7 linked regions of the Homo sapiens genome follow. The protein of the gene in region 5 purifies or fractionates together with the protein of the main gene of each other region. This does not show direct contact. Each region holds a gene or a part of one and is shown on either strand. Other genes may lie near its edges.

Region 1 (4,257 bases), on a different chromosome or scaffold from region 5:
GAATAGGGTGTATTATTTTTCTGATATGCTGTTGGATTCAGTTTACTAGTCTTTCATTGAGGATTTTTGCGTCTGTGTTCACCAGGGATATTGGGCTCTAGTTTTCTTTTTTTTTGTTATGTCCTTTCCTAGTTTTTGTATCAGGGCGATATTAGCTTCATAGAATGAGTTAGGGAGGATTCCTTCTTTCTCATTCTTTTGGAATACTTTCAGTAAGATTGGTACCAATTCTTCCTTGAATGTCTGGTAGAATCTGACTGTGAATCCTTCTGGTCCTGGGCTTTTTTTTGTTGGTGGTAATATTTTTTAATTACTGACTCAATCTCACTGCTTTTTATTGGTTTGGTCAGGATTTCTGTTTCTTCCTGATTCAGTCTAGGAGGGTTGTGTGTTTCCAGGAATTTATCCATTTCTACTAGATGTTCTAGTTTGTGTGCATAGAGGTGTTCATAGTAGTCTCAAAGGATCTTTTGTATTTCTGTGGTGTTGCTTGTAATGTCTCCATTTTCCTTTCTAATTGAACTAATATAGAATCTTCTTTTCTTGTCTAATCTAGCTAATGATCTATGAATTTAGTTTATCTTTTCAAAAACCACCTTTTTTTTCATTGATCTTTTGCAGTTTCTTTTGTTTCAATTTCATTTAGTTCTGCTCTGATCTTTGTTATTTCTTTTATGCTAGCTTTGGGTTTAATCTGTTCTTTTTTTTTTTTTTTTTGAGACAGAGTCTCATTCTGTTGCCCAGGGAGTGCAGTGGTGCGATCTCAGCTCACTGCAACCTCTGCCTCCCGGGTTCAAGCAATTTTCCTGCCTCAGCTCTCCTGAATAGCTGGGATTACAGGCGTGTGTCACCACGCCCAGCTAATTTTTGTACTTTTGTTAGAAGCAGGATTTCACCATGTTGACCAGGCTCGTCTTGAACTCCTGGACTCAAGCGATCTGCCCACCCCAGCCTCTCAAAGTGCTGGGATTATAGGTATGAGCCACCGCGCCCAGCCTCATTTGGTCTGTTCTTGTTCCTCTAGTTCCTTGAGGTGTGACATTAGGTTGTCAATTTGTGATCTTTCAGACTTTTCTCTCTCTCTCTCTCTCTCTTTTTTAAATAGAGATGAGGTCTTGCTATGTTATCCAGGCTGGTCTTGAACTCCTGAGCTCAAGCAATCCTCCTGCCTTGGCCTTTCAAAGTGCTGGGGTTATAGGCGTGAGTCACCATGCCTGGCTCAAGACTTCTTGATGTAGGCATTTAACACTATAAATTTTTCCTCTTAGCACTGCTTTTGCTGTATCCCAGAGGTTTTGATAACTTGTGTCACTATTATTTATTTTGAAGAATTTTTAAATTTCCAGTGATTTCATTGTTAACCCAAAAATCATTTAGAAGCAGATTGTTTAATTTCCATGTATTTGTATAGTTTTGAAGGTTCCTTTTCAAGTTGGTTTCTAGTTTTATTCGACTGTGGTCTGAGAAGATACTTGATATGATTTCAATTTTTTTAAATTTGAGATTTGTTTTGTGGTCTATCATATGGTCTATCTTGGAGAATATTTCAGGCACTGATGAGAAGATTGTATATTCTGCAGTTCTGGAGTAGATGTTCTGTAAATATGTTAGTTGATTTGTTCTGGAGTATAGTATAGGTCCAGTGTTTGTTGACTTTCTGCCTTGATGATCTGTTTGCTGTTGTCAGTGGAGTGTGAAGTCTTCCACTATCATTGTGTTGCTGTCTTTCTCTTTTGTTAGGTCTGGTAGTAGTTGTTTTATGAATCTGGGAGCTCCAGTTTTAGGTGCATATATATTTAGGATTGTAATATCTTCTTGTTGGGTTGATCCTTTTATAATTATATAATAGCCTTCTTTGTCTTTTTTTCAGTGTTGTTGCTTTAAATTCTATTTTATTTGATATAAGAAAAGCTACTGCTGCTTGCATTTGGCTTCCATTTGTATGGAATATCTTTTTCCACTCCTTTACCTTTAGTCTATAAGAAGCCTCACATGTTAAGTGAGTCTCTTGAAGATGGCAGATATTTGGTTTGCGATTTATTTATTTATTTATTTATTTATTGAGACGGAATCTCGCTCTGTAGCTCAGGCTGGAGTGCAGTGGTGTGATCTCAGCTCACTGTAACCTCTGCCTCCCGGGTTCAAGTGATTCTCCTGCCTCAGCCTCCCGAGTAGCTGGGACTACAGGCACACACCACCACACTTGGCTAATTTTTGTATTTTTAGTAGAGATTTTGCAACGTTAGCCAGACTGGTCTTGAATTCCTGACCTCAGGTGATCCACCCACCTCAGCCTCCCCAAGTGCTGGGATTACAGGTGTGAGCCACTGCGCCCAGCCTGTGATTTTTTTTTTTTTTTTGAGTGGAGTATTTAGACCATTTACATTGAATGTTAATATTGAGATGTGAGGTACTGTTACAGTCATCATGTTGATTGTTACCTAGATACTTTTCTTCCTTCATTACATTATTGTTTTATAGGCCCTGTGAGTTTTATGCTTTCAAGAGGTTCTATTCTGGTGCATGCCAACCTTTTGTTTTAAGATTTAGAACTCCTTTTTGCATTTCTTGTAGGTCTGGTCTGGTAGTGACAAATTCCCTCAGCATGTGCTTGTCTGAAAAAGACTTTATTTCTCTTTCATTCATGAAACTTAGTTTTGTTGGATACAAAATTCTTGACTAATGTTTATTCTGCTTAAGGAGGCTAACAATAGGACCCCAATCCCTTCTGCAGTTGTAAGGTTTCTGGAGAGAAATTCTTGTGAATAAAACAATCCATCTTTTCTTTTTAGCTTCCACCAACACTTTCTTCCAAATATCCTGAAGATGACCCAGACTACTGTGTGTGGGTCCCACCTGAAGGTAGATTGTTTTTACTTTTTTTTCCTCTAAGGTTCATTTATTTATATTTTTGAATAGGTAATATAGATTTAAGGTTCAACATAAGAAAGTTACAAGAGTATGTAGTGATAATTTGTATACCATGTTTGGATCCTTATTCAAACAAACAACTGTTTAAAAAAATTATTAGCCAGTCAGATAATTTTGAACACTACCTGGATATTTGATGATACTAAGAAATTATTTTTTATTTTTTTAAAGTGTGAATGATGTTGAGTTATGTTTTTTGGAAAAAGTCCTTGTCTTCTAGGAATATATACGGAAGTGTTTACAGGTGTAATGTTATCTGGGTTTTACCAAGTCAAAAGAAAGGAAAACAATTCTGGCTGTGCCTCAGCTACTCGGTTGTTTTCCTCACAAGACAACCAATTGTTGTTAGTTTCTTATGGATACTTATATATAAAATGCTAAGTAGAGAGGAGCATCTATAGAAAAAAAATCATAAAAGTTAACCTGCTGGATCAAAGGTATAAACATTTTAAAGATATTATAAATTGCATTCTATAGAGATTGTACCAGTTTTATGCTCATACACACACCCTTAAAGCAATGTATGAGATACTTACTTCCTCATATGTTCATCACAGCTTGAGATTTCTAATATATTAGTAACTAATATAATTTAGTTACTTGAGATGTCTGCTTTTTCTATGCTAACAAATGTTAGGGTAGAAATGAAAGAGGGCTGTATTTTGAAATTTCATACAAAAAGTAAAATTTCTACCGTAGAATAAACCTTTTTGTCTATTTTACTTTTTGGCCTACTGATATCTGGATATCTTTTCTCTCCTGACTTTGGAAGAGTAAATAATGTATTTCTTTTTTTATATTCTGATCTAGGTCAAAGTGGAGATGGCAGAACCCATCTTAATGACAAGTATGGCTATTGATTGCTTCAGAATCCCAAAAGAAAACCTTGTGGACCATGTGACATGGAATATTTGGGATAATGTATCAAATTGAATGGCCAGAGAAGTTTAGATGATTATTTGTAAGATCTGGTGACTGGCTTTTCGTTCTGTGTTCTTGGCTTCCTAAATTTATCTGCCCATATGATTCTCATGCATTTGATATTTATGTTTAAAAGTGTTTATATATGTATGTAAAAAGGGAACCATATGTTTTGAGAATTTGTAAAGTGAGAGACATGATCCTATTAAAATAAGAAGGCAAAAATGTTCCTAATATTTTATTTTATTTTATTTTTTTTAAGAGACAGGGTCTTACTCTGTCACCTAGGCTGGGGTACAGTGGTGCAATCCTAGCTCACTGTAGCCTTGAACTCCTGGGCTCAAGCAATCCTCCCACCTCAGCCTCCCAAGTACCTGGGACTATAGGCATGTACCACCACCACAC
Region 2 (4,257 bases), on a different chromosome or scaffold from region 5:
TTTTCAAGAAAAAAACTCAATTCTTAAGTGTCAACATACAACATTTATAAAGACTATAATTCAAGAATTTGTACTATTCAATTATAAAAAAGATAATGCAGCTTGACTCAAACAATGTCTACAGTAATTAACTAAACTAAAAATTTACAAGTGGATTTTTTTTTTTTTTTTTGAGATGGAGTCTCACTCTGTCACTCATGCTGGAGTGCAGTGGTGCGATCTCAGCTCACTGCAACCTCCACCTGCCAGGTTCAAGATATTCTCCTGCCTCCTGAGTAGCTGGAACTACAGGCACACACCACCATGCCTGGCTAATTTTTGTATTTTTAGTAGAGACGACGTTTCACCATGTTGGCCAGGCTGGTCTCAAAACTCCTGACCTCAGGTGATCAACCCACCTCAGCCTCCCAACATGCTGGGATTACAGGCATGAGCCACCATGCCCAGCCAAATTTTTTTTTTTTTTTTTTGTAAATATAGGATCTTGCCATGCTACCCAGGTTGGTCCAAACTCCTGGCCTCAAGCAATCCTTCTGCCTCAGCCTCCCAAAGTGCTGAGATTATACGCGTGAGCCAGGATGCCCAGCCCCTCAAGTGAAATTTTAAAAACTCTCAATCATCTTCCTTTTGTCTGGAAATTATCACTTGTCCATCCCATTACTACCATTACAAAAGCGAAACAATAAAAAGAATCAAATGATGCAACTGAAATTTCTAATTAAAGATTTGCTCATGCAAAATATTAAAACCAATGGCTAAAATGAGACTTGGAAAACAGAGAAAACATTAGTAAACAAAATTAGTATTTATTGCACATTGGCATGAAGAAAAGCAAAAGCTGGCAATGAATTACACAGAGCCCGAAGAAGGGAAGCCACAAAGCTAGTTCCAGCACTGAAGGCTGAGAACCCTGGAAAGCCAACAGAAGAATCCTTCCTGATACTGTTACCTCCTGGTATTCATTACCTTTCCCAGTCTCCTTCCCTCTCTACCTTCTTCTTCAGGATAAATCCCTTATGTATTCCTTTCTCACCATCCCCATTCCCTCATACAGAATTTTTAACTCCCAGAACCATTCTCTTCAGCTTTTTTTTTTTTTTTTTTTTGAGACAGGTCTTGCTCTGTCACCCAGGCTGGAGTGCAGTGGCGCGATCTCAGCTCACTGCAAGCTCCGCCTCCCAGGTTCACGCCATTCTCCTGCCTCAGCCTCCCGAGCAGCTGGGACTACAGGCGCCCGCCACCACGTCCAGCTAATTTTTTGTATTTTTAGTAGAGACGGGGTTTCACCGTGTTAGCCAGGATGGTCTCAATCTCCTGACCTTGTGATCCGCCCGCCTCGGCCTCCCAAAGTGCTGGGATTACAGACTTGAGCCACCGCGCCTGGCTTCAGCTTTCTTATTCTCTCATCCTTCCACTTCTTAAAATCTCATTCTCATAAAGTCTTTTATATATATATATATATACACACACACACACGTATATATATATAAAATGTATACCATATACATACATATTTTATATATATATATCTCCTATAAACATTTTCCAATGTTCACATCCAACTCTTACAAAGTTTAAATAATTATTCATGGAGATATACCCAACTACTGACTTTTAATTTACTGCCTGTGCTATTTACATACATAATTTCCTATGGTTTTAGTCCATATGTATATATAGTAAGAATTGTTAGATATTAGAAATTCTAGCTTGCTTTCAATATATTTTACATAGTGTCCCTTCGTTATGACATTTTGAGTCATCTTTTTTTTTTACCATTCTAGTCTTTTAAGAGAACAGCTTAAATCTACATAAAAACAGAGAAGATTCCTAAAAATTACATTTAAATGGCAAAAAAAAAATACTTTCAATTCTTCTAAGAATTTCACAGTATTAATGAATAGAGCCATATCAACAGAAAAAAAAAAAGTCGAACTGGTACTCTTATTCAAAAAAATTTAAATATTAAATTATTTTTATTGGATGATTCAAAGTATCTCCGTCTCACCTGCAGTGTATTTTCTTTCTTTATAAAGGACAATCTTTACTAAATATTATGTCCTAGAGATTTGTTCCATTACCATAGACACTATTGGCAAAAGAGATAGTGATGTATAAATTTTTAATAAGGGAGGCAAGGAAAAAGTATTATATGATAGGGTTTTCTTCCCCTGTTAATGTTAGAAAACTAAATTCTTTGAACTCTTTTTTCCAACTCTGGTATGATTTAAGTCTTCATGTAAAAAGAGAGAAGTTGACAGTGCTAAATGGCAAGAAAAAAACAGTACTTGGTTAAAATGGTTTCTATCACTGTGAATCTCATTTAGATTATCATTAACTTACTTTAATCAAATCAATTATTTTCTCATACAAATTCCTTACTATTTCTGAGAATTTGACAAACACCTTTTTTGGTAAGTAGAAATAATGATACATTTATAAGAATGCCAGAAAAAAAGCTCAGTCATCCACAATTTACTAAAACCACTGTTAGTAAGTTTATATTTTGAATTTATCAGTAATTTTAGTCTTGCAAGAAACTTTTAAAATGTTTTATTTTGAACTGTAAAAAATAAAACCATTTTTAAAATCTTAATTTACTTAATAACAAGGAGGAAATTTGGCACTGTATATTAGATTTGCAAACACTTGTTAGGAAGTTAAATTTCGTTAGCTATCAGGTGTATATAGCCCTGCCAAAAGAAAAACAACAGGACAGCTGTCACAGCTAATTCTTACCTAGATAGCCTCTGCTACTAACAAGGTATAGTCCAGACAAATTGAGAGATGCATTAGGTACCAGTTTACGGTAAACATTACACAATGAGTATTTCATTTGCACACATTTCTACTCTTCCTCTTTATCCCCTCAATAAGCCTAACAACTTTTCAGTCTAAATGTTCATCACCATTACCCTCCCATATTCTACTGTCTTCCTTCCCCTGTATAATCTATCAGCGGTTTTGTCTCCACAGTGATACTAATACCACTTTATAATGTGGTAAATGTAATGATCCAAAGAACTAAGCCAAAAAGTTGCCTATTGTCTATTTAAATAAGGTTTACCAAATGCCAATGTTTTATGTTAAATTTTTTTTAATATCCATGATGTCAAGTAACTGAAAAATATTCTGATCATGATATAATTAGTGTCTATAATAAAAAAGATGTTCAGTAATACCTGTGAACTGTGTTTATGGATTAATACCTTTAAGAAGTAATTTGCTAATTGTTTTTTGTATAGACTTGATAAACGGCTATTCACTTTTGGGTTCAGTTAATCAAAAATATGTCAAAATAGACTGGGCATGTTGGCTCACGCCTGTAATCCCAGCACTTTGGGAGGCCGAGGCTGGAGAATCATTTGAGGTCAAAAGTTAAAGACCAGCCTGACTAACATGGTGACACCCCGTCTCTACTAAAAATACAAAAACATTAGCCAGGCATGGTGGCGCATGCCTATAGTCCCAGCTACACAGGAGGCTGAGACAGGAGAATCGCTTGAACCCAGGAGGCGGAGGTTGCCGTGAGCTGAGATTGCACCACTGCACTGTACCCTGGGTGACATCAAGACTCCATCTCAAAAAAAAAAAAAAGTCAAAATATACTTAAAATTTCTGCATTATAATAATCTGACTTCCTCACCAGGATTATCTCTCCTAAACCAAGTTGAGCACGTCCCAAAGTCTGCCAAGACTCCCATGAATGTGGATTTTGCTGGACGGCCATTTCTGCTGCATGTACTGCTGGGAACATTTCATGAAGAGACATTAGCACCTATAGGCAAAAAAAGACCAAAAAATCTGTCAGTAATATTCATAAACTAGCAACTACATAAAAAACCCTTTTCATTTTTTAAGATATATTTTTAGTCCAGTAAAAATAGCATTTCGGTGATTTTTACCCCTTACTCTGCCATTCAGGGTAAGAAATTATAGTTCTCTTTTCACCCCTTATATAACTATGAAAATGTAAACGATTCCCTTTCCAGTTATTGAATCTTATGTCCATCTGGTCAAAACCAAGTGGTCATATCCTAACTATGGTGGCTCAGAGGTATTTTGAACTCCCAATTCCACTTCCATTTATTCTATTTACAATGTGGTTTTCAGGGAACCCCAGGTATTGCCATTAAACTAGGTGAATTAATTTGTTCAACCAGCCATCCCGTCCCTAATGAACATCTTTATGTTATAAAAAGTATTTAAAACATTCCCTAGGCCTTCTCACTACTGGGCATTTCAAACCATACATAC
Region 3 (4,257 bases), on a different chromosome or scaffold from region 5:
TTCGAGGATTAGCAGGAAAGCATGCAAAGCACTAGCCGATTACCCAGAACACGGTCAGTATGAGACGGCTGCTTTCATGACACTGACCTGCTCTCATCCTTTCAAAAACACTACGCAGGTCCCCCCTGACTATCCTATTCAGAACCGCAGCGTACTTGCCCCACCTCCCTCTATTTCTGCTCCCTGCTTTCTCTCTGTAGTATTTAGCACCATGTAACAGACACTGACAATGCACTTGACTCCTCCTCACTAGACTAGAAACTCCATGAAGACAGGGATTTCTCTTTTGTTCACGATTACATCTCCAGCCCCCTGAATAATGTCTGACAATGTATACTTACTGAGAGAACAAATGCTGCCTTTGTTCTAAACAGCCCCAACAGCTTCTACTGCCACTGGCAAAGTGGCTCGGCCCTATCCCAATCCTCCTTCCACCTCTACCCCAAGAATCTATCTGCTCAGTCTTCCATGGCTAGAACAGACAGCAGGAACCTCAAGTTACAGTGGTAAATGCCAATACCCAAGTTCTGAAGAAAAAACAGGAAAGTAACAGAATAAAAAGTGATCTGGGACCTTTAACCCTGGAAGCAGTCCACTGGGAGAAATTAATCCAGGGTTCATTTAAAATTGATATTGCATATTTATAGAAACCCTTGGGCCTTGGGCCTTGAATGACTGTTATTTTAGCTACCATACTAGCTTCTGGATTTGGTCATTTTCTAAACACACACATTGTTAAAATTCTAATTATGTACTTAAAAGTGAGTAGAGTTAGGAAATTCTCAAGTCCTTTCAAGTCAGATCTTTGAGGTGTTGTTTCTGGATATGAAGAAGAGATGTACAGACCATCCCACTGTAAAGGGAAGGAAAACAACCTCCATGACATGTGTAGCAAGAAAAATGTGCCACAGGCAAAGCTGTCAGTGCACTTTGCAATAAATTAATAATCTGATTATTTTAAATGCCAGAACTGACTTGTCCTGATTCTTGATTGCAGCTCTGTCAAATGATAATTGAGTTCTTAGGGTCTGGAGTAAAAATGCCAGAGCTCAAGCCCCAGCCCTGCCACCTCCTAGCTATGTGACCCTGGCCATGCTAACTTCACTGCACCTCAATTTTCTCTTCTGTAAAGTGAACATAGCAATAGTGGCTACCTTATAGGCTACCGGAGATTAAATGAGAAGATGCTGCATACATAATTTCTTAGTGATGTTAGTTATACTGACTTACATGACATCAAAGTGTCTCTCAACACCTATTTAAATGCTGTTTCCAATTTAAGGCACTTTATAAGCTGAAGAACCAAAGTTTTAGGGTCAAATGTGGTTTAAATCTCAGCATAGTACTTACTAGCTGACAGACCTTGAGTACGTGACTTCACCTTTCTGAGCCTGTTTCTGCTTCTCAAACATGGGGGGAAAACACCTCATGGCTTCTTGTGAGGACTAAGTTAGGTAAAAGGAGGCAACTCTTAAAGGTTGGCTTCTTCTCAGGGCCTTACTAGGCAACTGAAAACGGAAATGCACTTAAAAGCAGCAAGCACCACGTGGCCTTGTCACATAGCAGGCAATCGCCTAATGGTAGTTAGCAAGCATGTATTTCCCTTCTCTTTAGAAACCGGCAGTCTGTGTTGCACTTAAAGAAATAACTGAATAGAAATCAAGGTTTTACATTAAACTGGGATTCAAAACATTTGCTCAGAGGCCCCATGGAGAAGCGATGTCCTTGTAGACAGTGAGTGGACACAGTGCTTCCAAGCATAAGATGTTTTCCTTTCCTGGGCCCAGGACCCCAGCCCCATCCTGCCCAGGCACCTTGGTGTACTGTTCCACTAGCTTCGTGAAGTAGTTGAAGAGGCTGTGCTGTGGGCGGAGAAAGTCAAACTGGTAGTTGCGCTGCTCTTTCTGCATCAGCTGGGTCAGAAACTGGCGCCCATTCCTGGCCACAAACTGAGCCGTCAGCTTCACCACATCCAAGTCGAAGGCTGAGATAGAGGGAGGATCAGCAATGAACTCAAACTCAGGAGGAGGCTCTTTGGGCACGATGGTCTCTTGGATTACTTGGGCTTGGACCTAAGATGCAAAGGGAGTATGAGGCGAGAGGCACAGGGGTGAACAGGCTCCAGGGGAGGGGAGGGGAGGGGACATGGGCATGCACCCCTCAGCAGGATGCTGTGAACCTCTAGACTTCTGTTAATTATGCACACACCACTAGCACTTGGTGTGAGAGAATTCTAAATCACAAGAGCATTGACTTCCCAGCCAACTATGGCCTCAACTTCCTGAATGGCTGAGTGAGAACCATTCCCCTCTGTATCTCTGCTCCTGCCTTGAAATTGAGGGCCAAAACTGGGTGACAGAAGATCCAACAAGAATAGGACTTATTAAATCCCATCCAAGAGGGATGGATGTGCAGAAGGCCTACATGTGTGCAGAAAACCCCACTGTACAAAGTGTTTCCATGACCTCCGCATGAACGATGAGGTAGCACAGGTACTGTGAATCCTCTTTACAGATGAAGAAACTGAGGTAGCCTGAGGTCCTAGGCCTCATTGCAACGCAAGGTCTTAGAACCTGACTTCAACCTTTATAGCCCACTGCAAAAGGAGGGACTGCCTTTTCCACCATGGTTCAGGAGTGCAGAAGGCAGGTCTGGACAGGAGGAAAAACATGTCAGCCTCTCTCTTCATTCATAATCCTAATAGTCCCTAGTGCTGGGCCTCAGCACAGGGAAGGTGGTATCAGGGGAGGCCAGGATGGAGGGGTCCTGGGAAGAAGAGATAGAAGGGAAGGGATGGCACAAGGAGGAGCCCACAGGCCACACTGCATCCTTCAGCACAGCCAAGTAGGAAGTGCTGCCCTCACATCACGGCACTGCCCTCACACCCTGAGCAAGGCCTTGAATAAATCACACGTCCCCCAACTCTCAGGTTCCTCATACAGCCTCTGTGAGGAGTCAATGAGACAAGACTCCTGAAGTACCAAGCACAGAGCTTGACAAGCAGTGCTCGGGAAATGCCAACTAACATCAGTACTTTGCTGTCTGGGCCTCGGTCTGCCTCTGAGAGATGGGGATAACGACCTCACTTCTCTCCCTGGGTGGTTGTGAGATTTGGAGTTAATTGTGTACTCCCTCCCTATCCCTGTTTCCCTCTCAAGCCCTGCGTAAGTGAAGGGGGCACTGGGCTCCAAACCTTCTGGGGCAGCTGCTGCTGGGTGGTCTGCTGCTGCTGCTGCATGACCTTGGGGATGGCGGCGGACGGCTCCTGAGCCTTCCCTTCCTTGAACTCGCTGACCTTGTGGCGGTAGTAGGCATGGTAAGGGTCATTGGGGTTCAGAAAGTTGAACTTGGGGTTGTTGATCTCGTTCTGTCGGATCCTAGCTTCAAATTCAGGCCCGTTTCTGGAGGAAGAAAAAACAACAAGAATAAACACCACTCCCTTGTGCCTGCTGTGATCTAGAACACTGCCCATTGGAACGTCCTTCTTGCCACCACCCACTGCTCAAACCAGCCCATCCCTCAGCAGACGTCCTCCTCTAGCTTCCTGGCATTGGCGATCAGTGCCATCTGCCTCATTCAGCTTGAACCAGGCCACCTCTGCCACAGGGTTTCCCTGAACCCAGTCATTCCTTAGCTCCTTTTCCAGTTCTGCCATTTCCAAAACCATCTAGGCTATCGCTCATTTCTTTTAATAAAATTTACTTTAAAAAAAATCTATTTAAGATGGAGAATACATATTACTACTTCAAATAAAAAAAAATCAGTATGCCTTTACCAACAAAAGGTAGTCAAAAGTGAACATAATGAAAACAAAGTAATACTGTCAAAGTTTAGCTGGAAGTTTGCTGAGACTAATTCTCTTAGTTCAAAGGGGTAGCAAGTGCTGGAGAGGTGTAAAAGGTACATGAGCACCAAACCTAGACTTTGTCCTCTGAGTAACAAGAAAGACTGAAAGACATGAAAATTTAGTTGATTTGAGCCTGGGCAACAAGAAAAGACCCTAACTCTACAAAAAAATATAAAAATAAATTAACTGGGCATGGTGGTGTGTGCCTCTAGTCCCAGCTACTCAGGAGGCTGAGGTGGGAGGATCACTTGTGCCCAGGAGTCTGAGGCTGCAGTGGGCTAGAATCGTGTCACCGTATTCCAGCCTGGAAAACAGAGCAAGACCCTGTCTTTAAGAAACAAACAAACAAACAAAAAACAAATAGTTGGTTTAACGCCTTGTCCAAGTACTCCCTAAAACCACCCCCATTA
Region 4 (4,257 bases), on a different chromosome or scaffold from region 5:
TCATTTAACTTCTTTGGCTATATGTAACGCCTTTTTAACAAAAATAAAATACTATTTTTTAAAACTCCATTAACACGTCAAATTTTAACAATAAAAATTAAATTGTACATTTCAGTGTTTTGTCTGAGCCTCTGCCAGAACTTGGCAGTGCCCTGGGTTCTTTTAATTAAGGCTACAGATGGATAGTGAAAAGTTCAGTTTCCCCGACTGATTCATACAATGCAGGGCCCTTGTCTCTGACCTTCACCCTTTTCCACCCAGCCACAGCACTAAAATCTTTCTTCTCTGAGAAAGCAGACATGGCTGTTCCTCCCTTCTGAGCATCCAGTAACCTGGCAATGCTTTCGTTGCTACCATTGGTGATAACGACAAGAAAACCCTGAACAGCAACTGCATGGAGCTGGCTCCCATCTAGCCCAATGTCTGGCTTATTCAGGTTCTCTGGCCTTCTTTGAGGGGGTGGGCACTGGAAAGGAAATGGATCTCTGGACCATCCTACTTCCTGCATTGTATTTACAAACACCACCTTCCTAAGCTCTCTGGATAAGTGAGGTTCCTCTTCTACCACAAATGACTCATGCTGTATTGTAAATTATTTTGGGACTCTGAGCTAGCCCTCAGCATGTTATCCACTGCAGGCTATCATTCATTAGAGCATCCCGCTGCCCCTGATTTTGTATCCCATGCTCCTCCACATTGGCTAGAGTTCCTGAGTCGAGAAGCTTAGGGTTTATTTCATAGGTCATCCACCCCGACCCCTCCAACTTTTCTCTTTGCTTAAATTTGTGTTTCAGATGGAAGCAGTGAATTCTGGAATTCCCAGGTCTCTCTAATGTAAATGTCTAGAAAGAAGTTGGGCATTGCAAGGTCAGGGAGGGTGTTAAGAGCTTCAGATTTAGAGAAGCTGTTGACCAAATCGTTTTGGTTTCAAACCTTAGATATACTGGTGACCACACAGAGGGAAGTAGACTCCTGGGCTATAATCCCAGAGGCTCTTGTTCAGTAGATTTGATGTAGGTGGCCTGTTTGACACACTTTGAGAAACCATAGGAGCTTGCTGGTATGGGATTGGATTCCCAGTGGTTCTTAATGGAGCGTGGTACCCAAAGGGTATTTAGGAATCTGTGGGAGTCACCAGTATTTAATGTGTGGAGGCTGGATATGCCAAACCTCCTGCAGTGTGTGGCACAATCCTACACAACAAGGAATTGTTCTGCCTCAATGCTAATAGAACCTCCTTTTAGAAACACTGGGCTGGAAGGTGGATGGTGAAGGGTCTTCTGTTTTGTCCTCCGAGTAACAGAAAGCTGGGCTGGTCTTCTCATGAGGCAATCTAGGCACAACCCCTAAGGTTTAGGAAAATGTTTAAGATCAGAAAAAATTATAGGTCCAGAAGTTATTGCTTAAATTATATATAATGTAGCCTTGGGTGGCATATTAATATCATTGATGTATTTTGGGTTGAGATCTCTGGAAAGCAAGAAACTTAGAACTTATGAAGGTTCTAAAATAGCCCTGCTGGAGACTGATTGTATCTCTCTAAGAAAGACATGAGGCTAAGAGTGCTCAATTTCAGCCTCTACCATCTTCTTTCTGACATTATTTCTCATTCAAGTCAACTCCCTCATCCCCCAATGCTCTCCAAGCCTTCAGAGCTGTCTGCAGCCTGCAAGAGGTAGGAGGAACTAGGTGGGCATGCGATTCTGCGTGATTGCCTATAGGAAGTGGTAGGGATTTCTGATTTGTGGCAGCTCGGCTGTCGCTTGAAGCTTACTCAGGCCGTAGTCCCTTTCATCCGGGTCGCTCTCGTGTTTCCTCCATCGGCAGCACAGGTGCTGGAATATCATGGTCATGTGGCTGAAGATGATCAGTGGTGGGGGCAGAACTGGCCTTTCATGGAAAGTCATGATGAGCTGATACCTCTGAAACTTCCAGACTTGGTTGGATATCGATTTTACTTCAAAAAATGTATTGCTAAAATAGAGACCAAAGAGAATCAAGTGAGAAAAACCCACTGTTTTCTGAAGCATCGACTCCCCTTCACCCCTGCTGTCCTCATCCATCCCACGTGCTCCAAAGGACCCACTTACTTAAAGACAGCAATGAGGAGGTTGACCAGCAAGATGTTTGCCACTAAGAGGTAGCAGGCCATGATGGCCGGCACGATCCAAGCTCCTGTCTTGCAGGGAGGCAGCTGGATTATTTTACCATCCTCTCGGGTCTCATTCTGTCCACAGGGAGCTGGAGGGAGCAACACACACAAGAAATGAGAAACTGGCTATTTGAGTTAGAAAAAAAATAAAAAGATGGATTTGTAGGAGGGTTTTAGATGGAAGAAATATATAGCCATCTCAAACAGAAAAAAGTTCCAAACAAGCCAAAATTGAAAAATGAGAGCTTCATGAATATCTCAAGGGGCTGCTACTGTGGTGGTGGGGGGCCTCGGTTCCACAGTCTCCCCAAGTTATCACCTGACCAGAAGAGGGGGGTGGAGCCACCTTCTTGCTCACACTGCCGCTAGGCCCCTACACCGGGTGAGGGGCACTTGGTGCTCTTCTGAAGCCTGATTGAGAACTTTTCTTGGGTGTGCCCAGGGAGAAGAAAGTCCCACCACTGGCAAGTTACTTTCAAAATGTGCTGTAGAGGCTGTCAGCCTGACAGCTGTAAGAGCAGCAGCATCTCGGGACTATTGATCGGGAATTAACAACAGGGCAGCTGTTAATTGCTGCAAGAAACAACCTGGGAGCTCCAGCTAACGATTTGCTGTCTCAGTACAGAAGGAACAACACAGGGCAGTGCCTTGGGAAGTATTTAGAGGGCTTGTTGCTCTCTGCTCCTGATGGATGGGATTTCATTAGGAGGGCAATGAGGGGTGATCGGCCGTGATCATGGAGCTCATAGCCACACCTGTTCTTCCAGCAGCATTTCCATTCCAAAAGTGTGCTTTTCAGGGCACAGGAAACAAAACCTAACTGCAGTGGATAAATGGGCAAATGGGGGGAAAAAAAAAGCCTGGAGGTGGGGGTGAGGAGGAAGGTGATATGTGGGATTGGCTGTGTGTGAGTAATGTGCTAATGAGGCCTGCTTGGAATTTCCGGGTAAATGCAAGAAAGAAAAAAATCCCTGACAAAGCTTCTTAGTGCTGCACAGACAATGTGGCTCAGGAAGCCAGATGATGCCGTGAGGTGCCAGGCATGGGTGAGGTAGCCCTCCTCTCCAGCCCCCTATAATGGCTTTAGAACAAGGCTCTTTACATCTACCTGTAAAAGGTGGTTGGGGGGAGTGGGAGGAGCACCAAGAGGTCTCAGCAGTTGCCACAGGCTGCTTTGATGATCGGCCAGGAAGATTTGAAAAGTTGACCCAGAATCTACTCGGCTGGAGTACTTGGCAAGAGGCGTCCATTCCTTTCTCAAGAGTTTCCGTTGCTAGGCTGCACATTCTACAGTGATTCTCAACCCTGGCTGCCCTGGGGATCACCTGGCGAGCTCTAAAAAATACCAATGCCCAGCTTGGCTCCAGACAATTGAATCAGAATCCCTGAGGGTGCCCCAGGCATCAGCATTTCTTTTAAAACTTTCTAGGTAATTCTCAATTGCCATGAAAGTTGAGCCCACTGAGCTAGAATTAGGCTGGAAAAATTATGTAATTTTTGACATGCTCTGAGGCCCAAAATGCATCTTCTCAGCCTATGAGGATTTTAATAACATTAGGACACCAAGACCTGGTTTTTATGGCTAAGAAAAGAGGACCAAAGTGCTTCCTTTAGTTCTGCCTGCCAAGATGACTGGATGCAGAATCAGGCATTTTTGAGGAGCAAGAATCTTTTTTTTATTATTGCAGTTGTGGCACTAAACACCCAAGACAGCCCTGTAAGAGGTCCTGATCATTTCCACCCTTAGAAGGAAAACTCAGCAATGAAGGCCCCCTGGCTTCAGCATGAAGTCAAACTCTGAGAGTGCCTGGCCCTGGGCCGTGTCTTGCCACCTCCCACCTCTCCCTCTGAGCACAAACTGGACTGAGTTTCCTGCAGTTCCTAGAAATGCCATGCGCTCTCTTACTTCCTGATTTTGAGCCATGCTGCTGCTTGGCTTCTAAAAGACCCCTCTGCTACCTTGCTCCCATTCCCATGCTTCACCTGGGTGCATCCTGCTCACTCTTTAGTGCTCACCTGGCTTTCCAAAGCCCACCCAGCTCCCTTGCTGCCCCATCCAGTAAGGACTTGGGTAGGTATCTTCCTTACAATCCCAGAGCACCCTC
Region 5 (4,257 bases):
ATCCTCCCACCTCAGCCTTCCGAGTAGCTAGGACTACAGGCGCACACCACCACGCCTGGATAACTTTTGTATTTTCTGTAGAGACGGAGTTTCACCATGTTGCCCAGGCTAGTCTCGAACTCCTGAGCTCAAGCAATCCACCCGCCTCAGCCTCCCAAAGTGCTGGGATTACAGGCATGAGCTACCGTGCCCGGCCCATAGCTGAGACGTTCTATTCAAATAGAAAATTTACCAGATCACATTGCAAAATATTTAAAATAGTCTTATAATAGTTTCAATAATAGTAATACTTAGTATATTTGAGTATATATACCATGTCCTAGTTCGTAAAAGGGGGTATTAGTGAATATAAAACACAATGCTAGGCCGGGCATGGTGGCTCACACCTATAATCCTAGCACTTTGGGAGGCTGAGGCGGGTGGATCACTTGAGGTCAGGAGTTCTAGACCAGCCTGGCCAAGACGGTGAAACCCCGTCACTACTAAAAATACAAAAATTAGCCAGGTGTGGTGGCACGTGCCTGTAATCCCAGCTACTTGGGAGGCTGAGACAGGAGAATCGCTTGAACCCAGGAGGCAGAGGTTGCAGTGAGCCGAGATGACGCCACTGCACTCCAGCCTAGGCGACAGAGCAAGACTCTGTCTAAAAAAAAACGAACAAACAAACAAACGAAAAAACCCAAAAAACAATGCTAGATGAAATCATAAACATTTAGCAGAAGCTAAAATATGACATGACCAGTGGTAATTAGCATTTAGGAGAAAATTCTAACTTTTTAATAAGGCAAAGGAGGTTCTGCAATATGCCAGTAAATTTCTACCTAATTGGCATTTGAACAAGTTGTACCTATGTTTAACAGACAGTCTTATCTTCCCTAGCCCCTTAAAGCATTACATAAGACTCGTATGTCTAGTTGCTTATTTGTGGTGCTCAAAACAGAACTCTTGTCCTCTACACTCCCTGGCCCACATCCACCTGAATGCTCCCTCAGTGAATAGTGTTGCCAGTCTATCTGTCTATTCAAACTAAAAACCTAAAAATATGACTTGAATTCCTCTCTCTCTCCTTGTCCTCTGGTCAACATGGTGAAACCCTGTCTGTACTAAAAACACAAAAAATTAGCCGGGTGTGGTGATGGGCGCCTGTAGTCCCAGCTACTCAGGAGGCTGAGGCAGAAGAATCGCTTGAACCCGGGAGGCAGAGGTTTCAGTAAAGTAAAAATGATCTGTTAAAAAAGTCTGGTGCAGTGGTTCACACGAGCACTTTGGGAGGCCGAGGCGGGTGGATCCCTGGAGGTCAGGAGCTCGAGACCAGCCTGGCCAACATGGTGAAACCCTGTCTCTACTAAAAATACAAAAATTAGCTGGGCGTGGTAGCAGGCACCTGTAATCCCAGCTACTCGGGGGGCTGAGGCATATGAATTGCTTGAACCCAGGAGGCAGAGGTTGCAGTAAGCAGAGATCACGCCACTGCACTCCAGCCTGGGCGACAGCATGAGACTCCATCTCAAAAAAATTTTTTTTTTAAATGAATGATCTGTTAAAAGGTACAGATATAAATGAGACAGAGTCATTCCCTGCTTAAACCCCTTCAATGGCTTCCCATTATAGGAAACATAAAATCCAAACTCCTCCTTCAAATCCAGGAAGCCCTACATGATCTGACTCTGCTTACCCTCCACTGCCCCTTCTCCCTCAGCAACCTCCTCCACTGCCCCCTCTCCCTCAGCAACCTCCTCCACTGCCCCCTCTCCCTCAGCAACCTCCTCCACTGCCCCCTCTCCCTCAGCAACCTCCTCCACTGCCCTTCTCTCCTTTGGACTCTAGATTTCAGGTTCCCTGGCCTTTTTTCAGCCTTCAAGCTTCAGGCTTCTTCTTGCTGAGATCTCTCCACTCAGGTGTCAGCTCAAACATCACCTCCTCAGAAATTTCCTTGAGCAGGCAATCTATAGAAGCACAACTCTATTCTCATTACTCTATCACATCACTCTGCTTTATTTCTTTCTTTTTTTTTTTTTTTTTTTGAGACGAAGTCTAGTTCTATTGCCCAGGTTGGAGTGCAGTGGCTCAAGCTTGGCTCACTGAAACCTCTGCCTCCCGGTTCAAGTGATTCTTCTGCCTCAGACTCCTGAGTAGCTGGGACTACAGGCGCCCATCACCACGCCTGGCTAATTTTTTGTATTTTTAGTACAGACGGGGTTTCACCATGTTGACCAGGCTGGCCTCGAACTCCTGACCTCGTGATCCTCTCGCCTCAGCCTCCCAAAGTGCTGGGATTACAGGCGTGAGCCACCACGCCTGGCCTGCTTTATTTCTTTATAGCACTTAATATGATCACATTTTGAATGATCTGTTTTGCTTATCATCTCACACTCCCATATAAAAAACTAGCTCAATGAGAGCAAAGACTGTGTCTTTCACTGCTCTGTCTCTGTCCGCTAGCGAAGTGTCTAGCATACAGCAGGAACACATACTGCTGATTCTTTTTTATAAGCTTAGAATCTATTTCATTTCCCTCATTTCTCCTTGAAGTCTCACAGATTTCCTCTGAAACAAAAGCATTCAAAAGAGGCCTTAGCTGTTACTGAATTCCTGAAAGACCTCAGTTGAGGAACACTCTACTGTTAAAATGGGAATTAATTCCTCTCTATAAAAAAATGACAAGTTCCAAACAATTTTTCTGCCCCCTAAAAACCTAGCATGAACTTGCCTCATCTGGAAAGAAGTGCTCAAATAAAGGTGTTTAAAATCTGCACTGAAATTAACTGATGGCCTAAGATACAAAAAACAAAGATCGTGGAGGCTGCTTCTGCCCCATATTGACTACAATGAAGACACATGCATTTTTCCCAATTATAAGGTGATTATCCAATTTTATGCTATTTAAATTTAGCTGTATTACAAAAAAGACAAATCCTGATGAATCAGTCAAGGGAAGATGAGCTGTGATACCTCTGAAATAAATATACTGTCAAGGAATAGCAGCAAAACATACCAAATCAATCCTTAAAAAAGAATCCTGGAAGATAGAGAAGATACATACACACATATGCCTCACAGATTTTTTTTTTTTTTTAAATAAGCAACTGTGTGTTAGCTACAATTATCTTCATAGCCTAAGTGGAAGAGGAAGTCAAGATTTAATACAAATAACAAAAACTGTTTCCTAGTTCCTCAATATTTGAGTTCCTGATTTCTTTAAATCCTCTAATTCTTGCTGACATGTCATAAGCAGTTCTCTTATGACCTAAATAAATGTGGAAACAAAACAAAGTATTATTCTCTAAAGAAGTCAACTCATATACAGCAGAACCTCAGAAGAACATAACTTGCTATAAAGCAAGGGCTAGCTGCCTGTTTTGTAAATAAAGCTTTCCTGGAACACAGCCATACCCATTCATCTACATATTATCGATGGCTGCTTTCAGGGTACACTGGCAGAGTTGGATGTTTGCCACAGAGACCAAACCATAAAGCCTAAAATATTTACCATCTGGCCCTTTACAACATTTGCCAATGCCCAGTATAAAGGGTAAATAGGGTAAAGCTGAAGAAAACTTTAAGGAATCTGCCACTGCACGGACCCGAAGAAGAGCATCAGAAGGGAACTCTGGTGTTATGTCTAAACTGAAATATGATTCTTTCCAAACAAACAATGAAATGACAAGAAAAAGAGAAAAAAAAAACCCAAACTCTGACATGCCTACTGATTATTCTTCAAACTCATCACACAGCACATCCCATGACAGGAATCACCTCTTTTTCTTTCTTCTCCTGTCGTTTCTGCTCCTCCTCTTCTCTCTCTTTCCTCTGCTGTTCTTCCCATTGTTCCTTTAACTTTCTCTTTAAAGGGGAAGAAAAAGTAACTTTGTTTCAGTCACTTTTTAAAAACATTTCACATACAGCGCACATAGATGAAAAACTTAAAACACTGGCAAACTGAATAAGATCAGTTTTTTGTTTTTTTTTTTTAAGTTCAAGATAGGCAACTCTTTTTTTTTTTTCTTTTTGAGATGGAGTTCCGCTCTTGCTGCCCAGGCTGGAGTGCAATGGCGTGATCTCAGCTCACTCCAACCTCCCAAGATAGGCAACTCTTCATGAGAGTTATTATGGTGAAGTAATCAGTTTGTTCACTAGTTACGTGATTCCTACCATACCTCTTGTTCTTCTTGCCGTTTTTTAGCCGCCTCTTCCTTTTCCTTCTTTATTCTGAATTCTTCTTGTGCCTTCTGCTCTCTTAGCAACCACTCCTCATGT
Region 6 (4,257 bases), on a different chromosome or scaffold from region 5:
TGAGGGCAGTCGAATGGGGTCACATCTCAGCTCTGTCACCTGCCGGGTCTTTGACCCTGGGCAGGGTAATGAGCCTCAGCTTCCCTGGTTTTTATTCTCATAAGCTGTCCAACAAAACCTGTTGCTCAACGAATTAAAACCAATCAACGAATGGAATTTATACAAGCTGGGTGTGAGCGTTTGATGGGGTCAGAGTCGCCAAGTCATCTGGGATGGAGTCTTGGGCCAGAGGAAAGTAATCATACACTTGACTAGCACTCACTCAGAGCCAGGCCCCAGTCTCTGGAGCTCACTCGGGGCCAGGCCTCGGTCTCTGGAGCTCACTCGGGGCCGGGCCCTGGTCTCTGGAGCTCACTTGGGGCCGGGCCCTGGGCTGTACAGGTGTCATCTTGCTTCATCCTTAGAGACATCACATTCGACAGGACACAGCCTCCAAGAGGTTAAGCCACGTACCAAGGTTACAGAGGACGTGGCAGAGCTGGGACTGTCAGAGCTGCCAGCTGGGACTCTGTTCCCAGCCTCCCTGGGCCTCTCCCCATTCCTGTCCCCGCTCGGCATCGTCTCCAGTTCCAGGCCCACTGCCCCGTGCTCGTCCCACCATGGGCCAGCCGTCCTCTGAGAGCCCATAGCCAGGGAAGAGCTGCAGCTGCCGCTGCTGCCAGGACTTGCTGGCCAGTCCCACAAGGCCTTGCTTCCACCCTGGGGAAAAATGCTCCTGGAAACCCTGTGTTGGTCCCGGGGCTGCAGCCACAGCACCACTGGCTCCCAGGGCAGGGCACGGAGCCTGCAGTGTCTAACTGGTCAGAGGGGAGTGAGGCCCGTAGGGGGATCAGGGCAAAGGCCAAGCTGCCCCAGACCTTCACTGGCTACCCTGAGGCCTCCTGGACAGAGAAGCTTAAGGGGGCAGGCACTGAGAGACCTGGAGTCTGCCCCCAACCTGCTGGGGGGCTCACGCGAGGCCTTTCAGTCTGAATGTTGGCCTTAGTTTCCCCACCTGTTCAGTGAGAGGCTGTGGAAGAAGATTGATAAACACCATCTCAGTCAGAACTTCCTTGTTCTCTAACTAGAGGAGTGAATTTCCCAAAGGCGAGATGTCAGTTTCCATGGAAGCTGAACTTGCCCCTCCCTGGAATCACCAGGCTGTGAGACTCCAGAGGGCAGGGAAGGTGCGTTCCTAAACTCCTTATCCCTAGACTGTCGTAAGGGGTCTGCTTGGTGCCAAGTGGGGACTGGGTATGCTGCCTGATTGAGGAAGGGATGGGGTGTACCCACCAATGACTGCTGGGCTGGCCACAGGGTCCAGGTGGGGCTGAGGTGCACCTTCAGGGCTCCCAGGCAGGAAGCCACACAGGCTCCACTGTAAGGGGACACAGGCCTGCCTTCTCCACTCATGCTGAAGCTGTTCCTAACACCTGGCCCAAACCGGGGGCTCAGGGCTCCGCATCACCCTGGGTGGCCCTTGGTTGCCAATGATGGGGAGATAGGGAGGCATAGGCCAGCTTCCCCGGTCTCAGAGCCCACATGCCCCAGCACCCCACTCCCGCTTAGCCCAGGGCATCCCGAGACGTACCCTCCACCTGGATGCTCAGCTCCTGCAGGTCTCGCTCTGACATGTGGGAAAATCTGCAGTTGGAGCCAAAGTCGCACTGGCCTGCAGCAGGAAGACAGAGTTACTCGCTGCTCGGGAGGGGCTCCCCACAGGGGCTGAGGGGTGCCCAGATGAGGGATCCCAGAATCTTAGGGGCAGGACTTCAGGGCCTAAAGAATAGCAACCCTGATCCGGGACAGAAAATGGAATCTCTCCGGCCCTGCCCATTCAGCAGCCAGAGCGACTTCTCACCTATCATGCCACATGCTCACGACCCTTCTCCAGCTGCCCCCCATGCTGGGGATCACTTCCAACTGAAGCCTGTCATGACTGGGCCTCGCAAGCCTCTGCAGGCTGTCTCTGTCACCAGCCCTCCCAGCCCTGCCTCGATGAACTACATATGGGTTCCTGAAAGGGCAATGCTTCCTTTCTCCACTCCAAGCCGCAGCACGTGCTATGCCCAGCCTAGTATTCTGCCTGCCTACCTGGCTCACGGGAGCAATTGGACTGCTCCTTAGAAAGGCTTCAGTGGCAGCTTTGCCAAAGAGGCACCAAAATCTGGGGTGGCTTCCCCTCTTTCAACCAAGGAGACCAAAATGTATGTCGAGATACTGGGAGGCTGGAGGTGTCTCAAGCCAGGATAACCTACCAGTGACATATTCACATCAAGGCAAAGTCTGTAGGGAAGCCCCTGATCTGCAGGCTTGGTGCCCATCCTAGGGGAGCTTGGACATTCACCCAGTTTCCCTAGTTCAGCTGCAGCACCTCTCCCCAGTGCTAAGCTCCCTTACAAACCATGTGAATCATCATAGTTTTCCTCTTTGCCATGGCTGCCAGGAAGCTCAGAGCCAAACCCTTAGAGAATACATAGGACCTCAAGGGCAAGCATGGAGGAGACTATTCTCTTGGTTTTATCTTATTTTTCCTACTCTTATTTGTATCTGTCTTTGGTTCCTTCACTTACTGAGGTTTTACCTCTTGCTCTGTCTTTTTTTAAAAGAGACAGGGTCCTCACTCTGTTGCCCAGGTGGGAGTGCAGTGGTGCAATCATAGCTCACTGCAGCCTTGAACTCCTGGGCTCAAGTGATCCTCCTGCCTCAACCTCCCTAGTAGCTGGGACTACCAGTGTGTGCTACCATGCCCAGCTAATTAAAAAAAATTTTTTTGGTAGAGATGGGGTCTCGCTATGTTGCCCAGGCTGGTCTCAAACTCCTGGCCTCAAGCATTCCTTCCACCTCAGCCTCCCAAAGTACTGGGATTACAAGAGTGAGGCACCATGCTCGGCCCTTTATCTCTCTGACCTATATGCATCTCTAGTAGCTGAGTACTGAGCAGTCAAATCTACACCTAGCATCCTTGGTTCTGATCCTGAACTTCCTCAGATCATCAACCCTGTTACTCTCTGAAGTTCTGCCTGCTGGGAAGGAGGCCAGGTTCCCAGGCTAACTTAATCAACAAGTCTATTCCACCCATAAGTGTCTCTTGGATTTACATGTAATCTCCCACGCCTTGCTTGTTCTAGGTGAGCTGATATAATCACATTCTAGATCTGAAGAGCTGAGGACCAGACTCTAGGAGGTCCTGAGACACACTTGGGAAGGCCCTGACTGGCCAGTCAGCTGGAGCCACTGCTGCAAAGTGGGCTTGGGATGGTGGCCCGGGTCGGGGAAGACACTCTGCAGAGGTCCAAGTGGGGCAGGCTGGATATCGCAGGTCCCCGCAGGGACCTGAGCTGTGCAGAGGACTTTACCTGTCAGTAGAAACTTCCTGCAGGGCCGCTTGTTCTGCTCATCCAGCAAGATGGCAGCTGCATCTGCGAGAGAAGAGAGGGACGGGATTCGGATGGTTCAGGCTCCACCAAAGGAGGCAGGAAGTGGAAGCCACAGGGGCATATGGACCCTTTATCTCGACACAGCTGTGCAGAAAGAAGAGTTTCCTGTTCCACGGAGGAGTGGAAGCAGGAGATGACCACAGGTGGGAGTCCTGGGCAGATGGATCCGAGCTGCAGGTGACCTCAATCCATCCCACCCCACGCAGGACGGGCCAAAGACAAGGACCAAGTTTCATGCCAGCAGTTCTCAACTTGGCACGAGGGAGTCAGCTGGAGAGTCTGGGGACTTTGGGTTTTTTTGTTTTTTAGAGACAGGGTCTCGCTCTGTCACCCAGGCTGGAGTGCAGTGGTGCAATCATGGCTCACTGCAGCCACTACCTCCTGGGCTCAAGTGATCCTTCTCCAGTCTCAGCCTCCCAACTAGGTGTGACTACAGCTGTGCACCACCATGCCCAGCTAATATTTTTTATCTTTTTGTAGAGCTGGTGTCTCATTATGTTGCCCAGGCTGGTCTTGAACTCCTGGGCTCACACGATCCTCCCATTTTGGCCTCCAAAAGTGCTAGGAATACAGGTGTGAGCCACTGGGCCCAGCCTGGAGGTATAATACTTTAAAAAAATCCTGGCACTATGGAACTTCTCATTATTATCTTTGCAACTTGCTGTGAATCTATAATTATTTCAAAATAAAATGCTAAAAATTTTTAAGTAAATCCTAGTGCCCAGGAAGCCCACCAGCCAATCCCAGGATCCAGGCACTGCTCCACAGGCAAGACTGCAATCCCTGGCCTCTGTCTCCCCTCCTTCCACCAGCTGTAGGGCACTCAGGGCCAGACCAG
Region 7 (4,257 bases), on a different chromosome or scaffold from region 5:
TCAGCAAAAGTTACAGGAAAACAGGAAATTTCCCTTCTTATTCTGCACTACTTTTTTCTGACTTTTCATTTATGGACCTGCTTTAGGAACAGCGACATCTCACTCATGAAAATGTACAGCGCAAGCAAGCCAGGACAGGAGAAGAGCGAGAAGAAGAGGAAGAAGAGCAGATCAGTGAGAGTGAGAGTGAAGATGAAGAGAACGAGATCATTTACAACCCCAAAAACCTGCCACTTGGCTGGGATGGCAAAGTAAGTCTCAGCACTACCACTTTCTCCCCATTCCCCATTTTGGAAACAGATACAGAGTTTAGTAGGCTAACACTTCTTGGTTTTGTTTTGTTTTTTTCTTTTTTAGCCTATTCCCTACTGGCTGTATAAGCTTCATGGCCTAAATATCAACTACAACTGTGAGATTTGTGGAAACTACACCTACCGAGGGCCCAAAGCCTTCCAGCGACACTTTGCTGTAAGGAATTCAGAGCCATTTTTCCTGGGAATTGAAGTAAAAACATGAGACTTTTAGAGAAAAGAGTAGGAGCAGCCTATGTGGACCACTGGTGTCCAGAGCTGAAGGGAATCAGAGAAGGATGGTTTTAAAATCAAGCCCATGGCATTTGACTTTTGGCACCAATGTTAGTCTTAAATACCTGAGATAGTTTCTGGAGGAATTCTACCGCACCACTCTTTGAACCTTATTTGGTTTTCTCTTGCCTGCTCTTAAACTTCTCTGTTTTTGTCTTTCTGCTAGCATTTTAGACCAATTTCTGACTTCTTGGTTATTTCTCTACCCCATTGCTAATACTCAAGATAAAAAATAGGGCTGACTGATCTCTTTCAGATCTTAAATGGATCTTTGCCTCTTGAGAAAATAAAAAATGAAGGGGCTGATATTTATCAAGCCATTCTTGAGACAGGGTATTGTCCGGATGATACTGCTGTAAGTGGGCTCACCTCTAAGTGGGCTCTACTTAGAGTTCTTAGATTTTGGAAGGAAATTTTACAGAAAGGAAAACATTTATGCTAGACCAAGGATGACAAATTTATATGAACTCCTCTCCCCCTCTCTGAGTCATACATATTACTAATTGATAATGGGTCTTTTTTGCTGAGCCCATGAGTGAGTTCTGAATCCTTCTCAGCACCTCCTACAATGATTGGAGTTGGCATCCAGGATAAAGCCCATGCCATTTACCATCCCTTAGTTAAAACTGCCATCATGTCAGTGTATAATCTCCCTGCTCTCTCCTCACCACATCATTGTGCCTAATAAAAGTCTTCTCCTTTACCTACAAAGATGATGCTGACCTGCCATTAGTAACCCCTATTCATGCAGGTGTTTGGAGTTGCTGGGGCTTTGGTAAGTTCTCCTGCAATATGGGAGATGTAGTGAGAGTTGTGATGTTTTTCTGTGATCTTGACCCAGAGGTTTTATGTATAAGACTACTGGGTCTAGAATCTAGGTTTACAAGCCAACCCAGTGAGGCAAACAATGCAGTGCTGCTTTGAAATACCACCCTTTTGTCAGTCACAGCCAGCTGTTTACAAACATGAATCACAAAAGGAATGCTACCTTTAGGTGGAGTCTTGCAAAGGGCCATGTTAGGATTTATGAGTAGAATGGAGTTAGTGCTCTGTGTTCAGCTATTCCCATTTCACATGATCCTTTTGCTTCTCTCTTCTCCCAGGAATGGCGTCATGCTCATGGCATGAGGTGTTTGGGCATCCCAAACACTGCTCACTTTGCTAATGTGACACAGATTGAAGATGCTGTCTCCTGTAAGTAAGATTTATTTACTGTCTCCTAGGCGAGTACAAATGGCTCTACTCCTTCAATTCAGCATCCTAATACCCTGTGTATCCAGGGTTAAAGGCAGTAGGTTGTGGATATGTAAAATCTAGGACAGTTGTATAATTATTGCATTTCTGTTTTTTGTTTTGTGTTTTTTTGTTTTGTTTTGAGATGGATGGAGTCTCGCTCTGTCGCCAGGCTGGAGTGTAATGGTGCAGTCTTGGCCCACTGCAACCTCTGCCTCCCGGGCGCAAGCGATTCTCCTGCCTCAGCCTACCGAGTAGCTGGGACTACAGGCACGTGCCACCACACCTGGCTAATTTTTTTTTTTTTTTTTTTTTTTTTTTTTTTTTGTGACGGAGTCTCACTCTGTCGCCCAGGTTGGAGTGCAGTGGCATGATCTCGGCTCACTGCAAGTTCCACCTCCTGGGTTCATGCCATTCTCCTGCCTCAGCCTCCCGGTAGCTGGGACTACAGGCGCCCGCCACCACACTTGGCTAATTTTTTGTGTTTTTAGTAGAGACAGGGTTTCACAGTGTTAGCCAGGATGGTCTTGATCTCCTGACCTCATGATCCGCCCGCCTTGGCCTCCCAAAGTGCTGGGATTACAGGCATGAGCCGCCACACCTGGCTAATTTTTTGTATTTTTAGTAGAGACGGGGTTTCACTGTGTGAGCCAGGATGGCCTTGAACTCCCGACCTCAGGTGATCCGCCCACTTCAGCCTCCCAAAGTGCTGGGATTATAGGCGTGAGCCACCATGCCCAGCCTTTGTTTCTGAGACGAGTCTCACTCTGTCACCAGGCTGGAGTGCAGTGGCACGATCTTGGCTCCTGCAACCTCCGTCTCCTGGGCTCAAGCAATTCTCCTGCCTCAGCCTCCCTAGTACCTGGGATTACAGGCATGTGCCACCATGCCCAGCTAATTTTTCTATTTTTAGTAGAGATGGGCTTTCATCATGTTGGCCAGGCTGGTTGAGGTGACGAACTCCTGACCTCAAGTGATCCACCCATGTTGGCCTCCCAAAGTGCTGGGATAACAGGCGTGAGCCACCGCGCCTAATTATTGCATTTTTTTTTTTTTTTTTTTTTTTTTTGAGATGGAGTTTCGCTCATATTGCCCAGGCTGGAGTGCAATGGTGCGATCTCGGCTCACTGCAACCTGTGCCTCCTGGGTTCAAGCGATTCTCCTGCCTCAGCCTCCCGAGTAGCTGGGATTACAAGTATGCGCCACCATGCCTGGCTAATTTTGTACTTTTAGTAGAGACGGGTTTCTCCATGTTGGTCAGGCTGGTCTTGAACTCCTGACCTCAGGTGATCTGCCCACCTCGGCCTCCCAAAGTGCTGCGATTACAGGCGTGATCCACCGTGCCCAGCTAATTATTGCATTTTTAAGAGAAATGAATTAGTCGGCAATACTGATTGTTTCTCCTTTGAGAAGAGCTCTGTGCTGAGTATAAACCAGGGCTTTTAGCCTGGGTCTGTGAACTCCCTTTTATGCAAGATTTTGATTGAATGGTTGTATGGATAGTTTTCTGAATTGATTTTAATGTGTTAAATAATGACTGATATAAAGGAAAATATAGAAGTACCCTCAGTAAGCTTGTGTTAGAGGCTATAGAAACACAGCAGCAAAATACCTCTTGAAGAAAGTGAAGCGGAGTGCATGTCAGGGAATGTGCTGCTGAAGCACATAGAGGACCACCGCCAGGCTTCCTGTTTTCCCAGCAGTAGTAGCTTTCTCTGCCATTAACATTTTCATGGCAGCCTTTTCTTTTCTTCTTTTTTTTTAATTTAATTTAATTAATTAATTTATTTATTTATTTTTTTGAGACAGAGTCTTGCTCTGTCACCCAAGCTGGAGTGCAGTAGCGTGATCTCAGCTCACTGCAACCTCCACCTCCTGGTTCCAAGCGATTCTCCTGCCTCAGCCTCCCGAGTAGCTGGAATTACAAGCGCTCGCCACCACGCCTGGCTAATTTTTTTGTATTTTTAGTAGAGACGGGGTTTTAGCATGTTGGCCAGGCTGGTCTCAAACTCCTGATCTCAGGTGACCTACCTGCCTTGGCTTCCCAAAGTACTGGGATTACAGGCGTTAGCCACCGCGCCCATCCCGGCTTTTTATATTCTTTTCAGTGGATCTATGTCACATTTCACTGTTGGCTGATTAGACAGAAGTAAGGTATTTTACCCCCCCATCCCACCCCCCACTGTTAAATTACAGGCACTTTACTCTCAGTTATGTTTAGCAGGCTGTTCAGCTGTTTGGTCAGCTTGAACCTTGGGCTTCCAACTCTGTTGCCCAGGCTGGAGTGCAGTTGTGCCATCACAGCTCACTGCAATCTCTGCCTCCCAGGCTCAAGTGATCCTCCCACTTCAGATTCCCAAGCTGATGGGACTACAGGCTTGTGCCACCATGCCTGGCTAATTTTTGTATTTTTTGTAAAGATGGTGTGTCACCATGTTGC

The links.
Region 1: the proteins of ZRSR2 (region 5) and SLC4A1AP purify together in Homo sapiens (affinity purification with mass spectrometry; 3 studies listed by BioGRID and IntAct, with this or other methods). This does not show direct contact.
Region 2: the proteins of ZRSR2 (region 5) and TTC33 purify together in Homo sapiens (affinity purification with mass spectrometry; 3 studies listed by BioGRID and IntAct, with this or other methods). This does not show direct contact.
Region 3: the proteins of ZRSR2 (region 5) and SF3A1 purify together in Homo sapiens (affinity purification with mass spectrometry; 3 studies listed by BioGRID and IntAct, with this or other methods). This does not show direct contact.
Region 4: the proteins of ZRSR2 (region 5) and TRPM3 purify together in Homo sapiens (affinity purification with mass spectrometry; 3 studies listed by BioGRID and IntAct, with this or other methods). This does not show direct contact.
Region 6: the proteins of ZRSR2 (region 5) and ZMAT5 purify together in Homo sapiens (affinity purification with mass spectrometry; 3 studies listed by BioGRID and IntAct, with this or other methods). This does not show direct contact.
Region 7: the proteins of ZRSR2 (region 5) and SF3A3 purify together in Homo sapiens (affinity purification with mass spectrometry; 3 studies listed by BioGRID and IntAct, with this or other methods). This does not show direct contact.

What each region holds. Positions count from the first base shown.
Region 1 is NC_000002.12:27,690,893-27,695,149, forward strand, and holds the end of SLC4A1AP (kanadaptin), read left to right. Parts: intron 1-2,792; coding exon 2,793-2,862; intron 2,863-3,741; coding exon 3,742-3,791; 3' UTR 3,792-4,077; downstream 4,078-4,257.
Region 2 is NC_000005.10:40,724,699-40,728,955, forward strand, and holds part of TTC33 (tetratricopeptide repeat protein 33), read right to left. Parts: intron 3,779-4,257; coding exon 3,647-3,778; intron 1-3,646.
Region 3 is NC_000022.11:30,343,119-30,347,375, forward strand, and holds part of SF3A1 (splicing factor 3A subunit 1), read right to left. Parts: intron 3,402-4,257; coding exon 3,194-3,401; intron 2,073-3,193; coding exon 1,815-2,072; intron 1-1,814. UniProt on the Homo sapiens protein: Component of the 17S U2 SnRNP complex of the spliceosome, a large ribonucleoprotein complex that removes introns from transcribed pre-mRNAs.
Region 4 is NC_000009.12:70,551,070-70,555,326, forward strand, and holds part of TRPM3 (transient receptor potential cation channel subfamily M member 3), read right to left. Parts: intron 2,242-4,257; coding exon 2,091-2,241; intron 1,975-2,090; coding exon 1,775-1,974; intron 1-1,774. UniProt on the Homo sapiens protein: Constitutively active, non-selective divalent cation-conducting channel that is permeable to Ca(2+), Mn(2+), and Mg(2+), with a high permeability for Ca(2+).
Region 5 is NC_000023.11:15,803,697-15,807,953, reverse strand, and holds part of ZRSR2 (U2 small nuclear ribonucleoprotein auxiliary factor 35 kDa subunit-related protein 2), read right to left. Parts: coding exon 4,158-4,257; intron 3,844-4,157; coding exon 3,757-3,843; intron 1-3,756. UniProt on the Homo sapiens protein: Pre-mRNA-binding protein required for splicing of both U2- and U12-type introns. Selectively interacts with the 3'-splice site of U2- and U12-type pre-mRNAs and promotes different steps in U2 and U12 intron splicing.
Region 6 is NC_000022.11:29,739,080-29,743,336, forward strand, and holds part of ZMAT5 (zinc finger matrin-type protein 5), read right to left. Parts: intron 3,402-4,257; coding exon 3,339-3,401; intron 1,652-3,338; coding exon 1,571-1,651; intron 1-1,570.
Region 7 is NC_000001.11:37,965,565-37,969,821, reverse strand, and holds part of SF3A3 (splicing factor 3A subunit 3), read left to right. Parts: intron 1-86; coding exon 87-251; intron 252-357; coding exon 358-468; intron 469-1,687; coding exon 1,688-1,778; intron 1,779-4,257. UniProt on the Homo sapiens protein: Component of the 17S U2 SnRNP complex of the spliceosome, a large ribonucleoprotein complex that removes introns from transcribed pre-mRNAs.